Linked DNA regions of Homo sapiens. The protein of the gene in region 1 interacts with the protein of each later gene in a pairwise test. Each region holds a gene or a part of one and is shown on either strand. Other genes may lie near its edges. The genes, in order: DKK2 and LRP6.

What was found.
Region 2: the proteins of DKK2 (region 1) and LRP6 interact in binary tests that used the Homo sapiens proteins (3 or more experiments, as listed by UniProt).

What each region holds. Positions count from the first base shown.
Region 1 is NC_000004.12:107,029,564-107,033,394, reverse strand, and holds part of DKK2 (dickkopf-related protein 2 precursor), read left to right. Parts: intron 1-3,831. UniProt on the Homo sapiens protein: Antagonizes canonical Wnt signaling by inhibiting LRP5/6 interaction with Wnt and by forming a ternary complex with the transmembrane protein KREMEN that promotes internalization of LRP5/6.
Region 2 is NC_000012.12:12,180,012-12,183,842, forward strand, and holds part of LRP6 (low-density lipoprotein receptor-related protein 6 isoform b precursor), read right to left. Parts: intron 1,429-3,831; coding exon 1,032-1,428; intron 1-1,031. UniProt on the Homo sapiens protein: Component of the Wnt-Fzd-LRP5-LRP6 complex that triggers beta-catenin signaling through inducing aggregation of receptor-ligand complexes into ribosome-sized signalosomes.

The DNA.
Region 1 (3,831 bases):
ACTTAATTATGCTTCTTAAAGAGTTTGGAAGTCTACTTACATCGCCTTAAATTGAGAATTTATTTATTTATTTCACAAATGAGTTGAATTTCTTATATGCCTTTCATAACATAGCAGTTCTATGGAATATATTTTATTATATTTACTTAACTGGAATCCTAGATTGTTAAAATTTGACATTAGGCTTGTGAAAAAAATTGTTAACATATTCAAGATGAAGGTAAAACAAAATAAAATACTGGGTTGAATAGCAGGAGGCTAGCTGGCAAATGTGAAAATTTTATTTTGTGTATTCTTCTTTAACGAATGATCTAAAGTATGTACTGTTATGAAGAAACAAATAGTAAAATATTTTCTCTTTGAAGTGAAAAGAATAATTCTTTGGATACTTATGAGTCTCTTTATCTTTTTTATTCTATAGTTATGTGGTCACCAACATTCTTAGTATTATTATTTTCAGAAATGAAATGGAAATTAGAAAGGCTATTACAGGGAAGATGTTATTTCCTTTTGTAGAGAAAAACTCTAGAATAGAAAGGTAGCTGAGCTGAATTTTTATGCATCACAATAGTAAATATGATTGAAAATATTGGAATTAATGTGTCAACTAATCAAATTAGCTAATCATGTAGTATCATCCTAAGACCTAATAAGTTTTATTTCCCCCAATTCCCTTTATACTTGACAGATGATGTTGAAATATATTCCTTTCAGGGATACAGGAGGAAGAAGCTCTAGGATGCAGCTTCAAGTAGGCAGATTGGAAACTCAGTCCTTGGTGTTCTTTCTCTTAAATGGATGTTGAAAATAGCCTATTTTAATTTTTCAGGATAGAGAATTAAATATTGCCACTGCAGAAGAAATTCTTGAATAAATTTAGTAATTCGTTAATCTACAAAAGTGAAAATGAGACTATATGAGCTCTATAGTTTTATTGAAAGTTGCCTGATTTCATATAAAGATAAACATTCTTATTTACAGGAATTCTACTTGTTCCATAGGCAAGGTGGATTATTTGTAATATCACTTCTAGAAAATGTGGCTTTGAATTTTAGAAAAAATTTAGAGAGAGAAAATCCACTGTTCTCCAGAGGTGTTACATTTCTCAATTTAAGGTTGGCTTTCAAAAACACAGTATGAGTTATAATGGAAACTGACATAGGAAATTGAGAGTGATAGTATTCAGATGATTGATACAGAATTAGCAAAAAATGAACTGCTGAATTATTCGCATCAATGTTTTAATTTGCCTTTTCATTTGCAGCTATTGCTAATAAGTACTGCATGTATGTGCTGTATATGTATACAGGCTAAATTAAGTTTCAGACTGTTACTAGTATATTTACATAATATATAAATATTTATGCATTTTAATATATATGTCAATTTCTAAGGATACTGTTTCAGATGTTCTAAATTAAAAGTAATTTCAAACAAAATCTTCAATATCATGTGAATAAATATATTTTGATGAAGTATGCCATTTCTCGATACTATCTCTAAAGTTTGAGGTGTTGACTTTTATGGACCACCTTCAAAACAAATTTTAAAAACCCAAACTACTAAAAAAATCAAGCTTTGCAATTCACATATTTTTCTGTGTGAATGAAAAACCTTTGGATTTGTGTTTGTAATTGCTTATTTTATTCTTCTCGTTTTGTCTTTCTGAGACGGGCAGATGAATTTAATTTGAATGCAATGCAGTAGCATTTTGCAATTCTTTTAAAAGTGACTAGAATAGTGATATTTATAGTTATATTTTAAATGTAGATAAACTTTCTGGCATGTGTTTCTAAAAAGAAGCTATGGTTTAACACAAATTCAGATTCTATGATTTTCTGATATGACTGGGACACTTCAAGGATAGTGGTTTGGATGAAGTTATGTTGTGAGAAAAGAATTCTTGAAATTCATTGAAAGAGAAGCTTGAACGAGTTGACTAAAGAGCACTAATATTTGTAGACTGCATTTTCTTTAATGAAAGTGTGCTGTATCTGTATGCACAAACATTCATGAAAGTGCTCACTGAAATAAACTATATACTCTAATATTCGGTAAGGGATCTCTTTACTTTCTGAAATTATCCATGACTTTTTTTTCTAACCTCAGCCCAACTTTCTCCTGCTTAGGAGTAAATAATCTGATAGCCTCTCTGGACATTGACTAACACTAAACACAATCAGGAAAGCAAATCATTTTTACGATTAAATTTTAAAAAATAAAGGAATTTGAAATAATCTACATTAACGTTCCTTTCCTCTCACCATGAATTATAGAAAATTGATAGTTGATACAAGTGGAAAGTTAGTTCTTGAATAGCAAGAAAAGTATTTTAATGATAATCTAATATGAACATCCATCATTTTATTTTTGTGTTAGACTAGAGAGCGCAAGAGGACAAAGTTGCTCAAACTTACTCCAGCTGTGACTCTGACCCTGTCATAATCTTCTTGAATATTCTTCTACAATACAAACTTTTGCACCCTCTTCTCCTTTCCAAGATATTTTGAAACTTATAATTTTAAGATTAGGTAAGGCAATGTCATAGAACTATAGCTAGTATATTCTGATCTAGGAAAATATTGGCTCTTCTTCATTTCCTTACAAAATTGCTTTAAATGTACATTAAAATAATCGGTTACATTTTAGAAGAAATTTATAATAGTTAACATATTTACCATTTTAGACTCAGTCTCTAATGGCTGTTTATTCTTTAGTATTGAATTAACAGCAAAATCAATTACAATCAAATTTCTACCTGTGACTTTCTGACGGCCTGTTGGAGTTGTTTTACTTCCTTATGCCTCTAGTCACTTGTGCTCACTTATAACAAGGAGATAAACCCGTTTTTAGTTATTTATCTGATTGTTCAAAAGGTTTATGTGATATTTGTGTCTGCCTGAGCCCCTTACTACGTCCTTTTTTTAACAGTCCAAAAGCATAAACCAAAAGGAAGTAAGGCTAATCATAATTGATAGACATATTGCATTATGTAGCATCGCTTTAAGATTACACAGAAAGATTTAATATAGAATGCATAAGAAAAATTTAGTATTACTATTTAAGGTAAGCAAAGGTCAATTTTCTGTTCCTCCTCTGTCCACTCTTGACAGGAACTAGAGCAGAATAACATATTTTTCTCTAATTGTAGTGTTAGGACAAACATAAAGCATTCTTTCAAAGAAGTCAGTCGATACAGCATTTGGTAGGTTCTTTTCTTTGTAATGGCAAATTTAATCAAAGAAAACTTTAAAGCAGAAAGATTGCAATATCCTGTTAAATTTTTTTTAATAGAAGTAATTAGTTTATGTATCACTAACAACAGAATTGCTACTCTAACATGTATTCCACAACCCCTGAATCTGCACAACAGATTATATTTTGGGAACCTGAATAATAGTTTAGATTTTTCTATGTGCTTTAAATATAAATTCAGAAATAAAATCAGCAAAAATACAAAAGTAGTCAATTTTTAAAAAAATGTTACTTATCTTTTTCCACAGAGTCAAAAGGGACAAATGGACATCAGATATCCTTTTAAATACTTTGCAGTATCTAATTTAAAACAAAATAATCTAGAGCAAAAAAAGAACAAATCTACAATTTTAAAAAATCAATGAGCAAATAAGTACATTAAATGACAAAACAAATAAAAATATCACAATTAGGGAAAATGACTTCTCAAAGTGGTAGTTCTGTCCAAACCTTTCCCAAGAGACATTAGATCTTCATGTTATACTTTATTATCCGGAATAAGATTGTTCTTTCTTCAGGGAAATAGAAGAAGTGAGCGATCTTCAGGTATATTATTTCCTTAAACTAGCTTGCAAG
Region 2 (3,831 bases), on another chromosome or scaffold:
ATAGATAATAAAATGTAACTTTCAGATATTCTAAAGGTGAGATCCATCCCTCCTATTACACTGGTATCATCAGTTAATGCCAAGGAAGGGGAAAAAAAAAAAAACATATGAAGAGGTGTTTAAGACATTTATCCCAGCAATATATAAGATTGTGGGAAATTTTCAGATCAGTGTGTTCTAGAGCCAATCCTGAAAATGCCTCCCAATAATGAGATTACAGTTTTACTTCTTTTTTTTTTTTTTTTTTTTAAATATTTTGTGTGCCCTTTTCCATGAACTTTCTCTCTCTTTTCCTTGATGGCTTGTCATCTCTCTGACACAAAAGGCTTATCCCAGCAGTATTAGTCAGATGGCAAACTGAATTCTCAAAATAACTATTTCTTCCTGCAGTGCTAAGTGATTCTTACGGCTCCTGGATGTTTAGATGGCTCTAAGGCATTGGTATATACTGAGGTGTAATTTGTCACTATGCTTGTCCTCAGAATAAATCTCAAAGTAACAAAATTGTTGAGTATGTAAAAAGTTGTACTTCCCTGGACTATGATCAGGGTGGCATGGCAAAACAAAACAAACAACAACAACAAACTAGAAGTAAAGCTGCATGGGCTGGCAAAGTTTTGGAAATCAAGTCATTCATGTATTTAGGGAAAAAAAAGTAAGCTATATTCTTACTATAAAGTACTGAAAATGGAATTAAAGCTTCTAGGGGAAGGGAAAGAGTTCTGAAAACAATTTCTTCCCACATTTTTCATGGTAATGATGCAATCCGAGCAAAATCTGCAGACAACACCCAAAGTCAGCAAACATGGACTTAATTTAGAAAGAAAAAATATCTAAGACATCCAAGGCAAAAAACTAGCAATTTTTAAACTTGAGATTGTATTCTAATCACCATATCCTAAAATAGACAGCCATTAAAGAGCTGTTTACTGGAAACCAATATATATGTCATGTTATCTTAGTCAATGTTTTCAGGAACCTGTGAAAAACAGAAACACCACACAGAATTTACTATCAGTAGAGCTTCTTACCCAACCATGGGATCTAACACAATAGCCCGGGGTTCCTCTAAGTCCTCTGAAATCAAGATCTTCCTCATGGTCCCATTGAGCCTTGTCACTTCTATTCGATCAGTGCCAGTGTCTGTCCAATAAAGATTTCGTGCAACCCAGTCCACAGCAATACCATCAGGATGGGCAATTTGAGCAGTGACCACAAACTGACTGCCAGATCCATCTATAAATGAACGGCGTATGGCCCTCACTTCATCATCAGTCCAGTAGATGTAGCCTTCCACAGGATCGTAATCTATGGCAATGGCATGACGGATGTCTTCTAACTGCAGAACAATGTCTGTAAAATCTGGTGTATCCAAAGAAATGCGTCTCAAGTCTGTCCTTCGAGCTAAAAGCAATAATTCTGTGGCACCTAGAACAACAAAGTGAAATGAAGAATACTTTGAAACCCAGAGGTAAAATTTACCTGCTCTAGATAAAGAATCAAGAACTGAAAAATAAATATAAAATATACATAAATTAACACAAAAGGATGTGCACTCTCTTTAGAGTGGAAATGGAAAGTAATACAGTGAAATAGAAGAGTCTACTCTGAGGTCAAGCTGTTTAATGGCTAACTCTCCAAATTAAGTTGTGATACATTCTATGGTTTCATTGGAATTAATCCAGCTATTTAAAAGTACAATGAATAATGACTATGTAATGACTAAGAAGCTAAGTAGCTCAGTATTAAAGGAGAAGGAAATGTAGGATATAGATCCTTTGTTCAAGAAGCATTTTTTAAAAAAAGATAAAGAAATTTAGGACAAGAATCTTTGTGCTTGATAGGAATGTTCTAAAATTGGATTGTGGTGATAACTGCGTAACTCTGTAAATTTACTAAAAAGTCACCGAATTGTACAATTTAAAAAATGGATGGATTTTATATGCTATGTAAGTTACATCTCAGTAAAACTGTCTTAACAAAGAGAAATACAGGGCAATACCTCACAGAATTGAGGACAAAGCAAGCTATGGAGAAACAAACAGCTGCAATGGAGGGAAGGAACCAGATAAACATAACACAGTGGTTAAGAGTTGTGGATCCAATATAATTTGATTCAAGAAGCTACACAAACTTTGGGAAAATATCTAATCTCGCTAAGCCTAGTTTCCCCATCTATACCTTGTAAGGTTGTTGTAAGGATTAAAGGAGATAAATCTAAAACTCAGGAAAGTACTGAACATTTAAGTACTCAAGAAATATTAACTAATACTTAACAACAGTATTAAAAAATAAAGATTTTCAGATTTTTATTTCACTGAATTTTAAATTAGGTTTATTTATGAACTGTTTAAAGCCCAAGCCCCAAATACTTAACCACATAACCAAGAATGAAGATACTGAGCTCAATCTTTTTTTCATTTTAAATTGTTCAAGTAAACCACCAGCAAAAAATCGTCTAACTATAGGAAGCTAATAAAAGACAGTAAGCAAATTGACAACTGAAAGAATAAGAAAAGATTCCCAGCTAAATAAATGAGTCCAAAACAAAATACTGGCATATAAACTTCAAGAATCAATCTGCAATTACAAGTCAAAAAACTGAGAAGAGGAGTGAAGCCTCTCAATATCAGCCCTTTCACTCTAGAGCTAATTATAAATGAATTCCAACTTGAAGAAAATACAGCCCAAATGCCACTGCAGGAACCAAGTAGGAATAACTTTGTACAATTCACTGCCCCGGCTAACAACCAAAAGGAGCCAGCCTAGAACTTCACAAAGAAGTCATAGAGCTGTTAATTTGAGCAAGGTGATCAAAACAGAACAGTTAACTTAAGGCTACTACATGCCAAATGCACACATGAAATTCAAAACTGGTTAAATATGTACACTTGCACTGCTGTGAGGGAGCAGATAGACCATTATTGCTAAAATAAATCCTCTGTTTTAAAGTCAGGCTACATTTTTAAAGAAAAAAGCAACATTACAAAAACCTTTTGTTTTAAATTGAAACCAAATTGCTGTCTGCCATGGAAACCATTTGACCAAGAGTCAGCCAGCTTCACCTTTTACTATGAGGATAATTTATCAATGCCAAGTCATAACAAACATCCTGTACACAGACTCAATTCCATCTCTCTGACTCCCTGGCCCCCTTGCCAGGGACTCTAACACACTCCAAAACACAGGCTTCTGCTTTTCAGAGTTAGATAAAGAAGCCACAGCTAAATACAACAATTTTCTTACCAGGTCTTGCTGGTTGCTAGAGAACCAGATGGTGATCCATAGGGGTGAGAATGAAGAATAACATTCTCATTAAGAAGAAAAACAGAAGAACTGGTGTTCTTCCAAACTGGAAGTCCCTTAAAATGTCCTAAATCAGTATACTTTCTCCAACGTGCCCTCTCTCTATAGGGAATTAAGAGTAAGGAGAACAGGCAAAGTGTGTTTCTTAAGTATAAAAAGAAGTTGTTTTAAATATGGATTTTTTTTCCCAGCTCTGAAAGCATCTCTCTGTTGTTAAAAAGCAATTTAAAACATCCTTAAATAATTTGTTATAAAATATATCTCATGATATTCTTTGTAGCTAAAAGTTTAATAAACATACTTTCTTTCACAGAGGTTCTTTATTCACAAATGCTACCTGTTAAAAATATATTCCTTATGCGACTACTCATTTCCATAGTTATCAACTGTGATATCAATGACTATGAGATTTGACAGAAAAGATACAACACGTAACTTTTTTCAAAAATATGTTATTTAAAACACTAAAATAATTTATAAAATAGCATTCAAGTGATGCCACAGAACAAAACACTCCTATTCTAT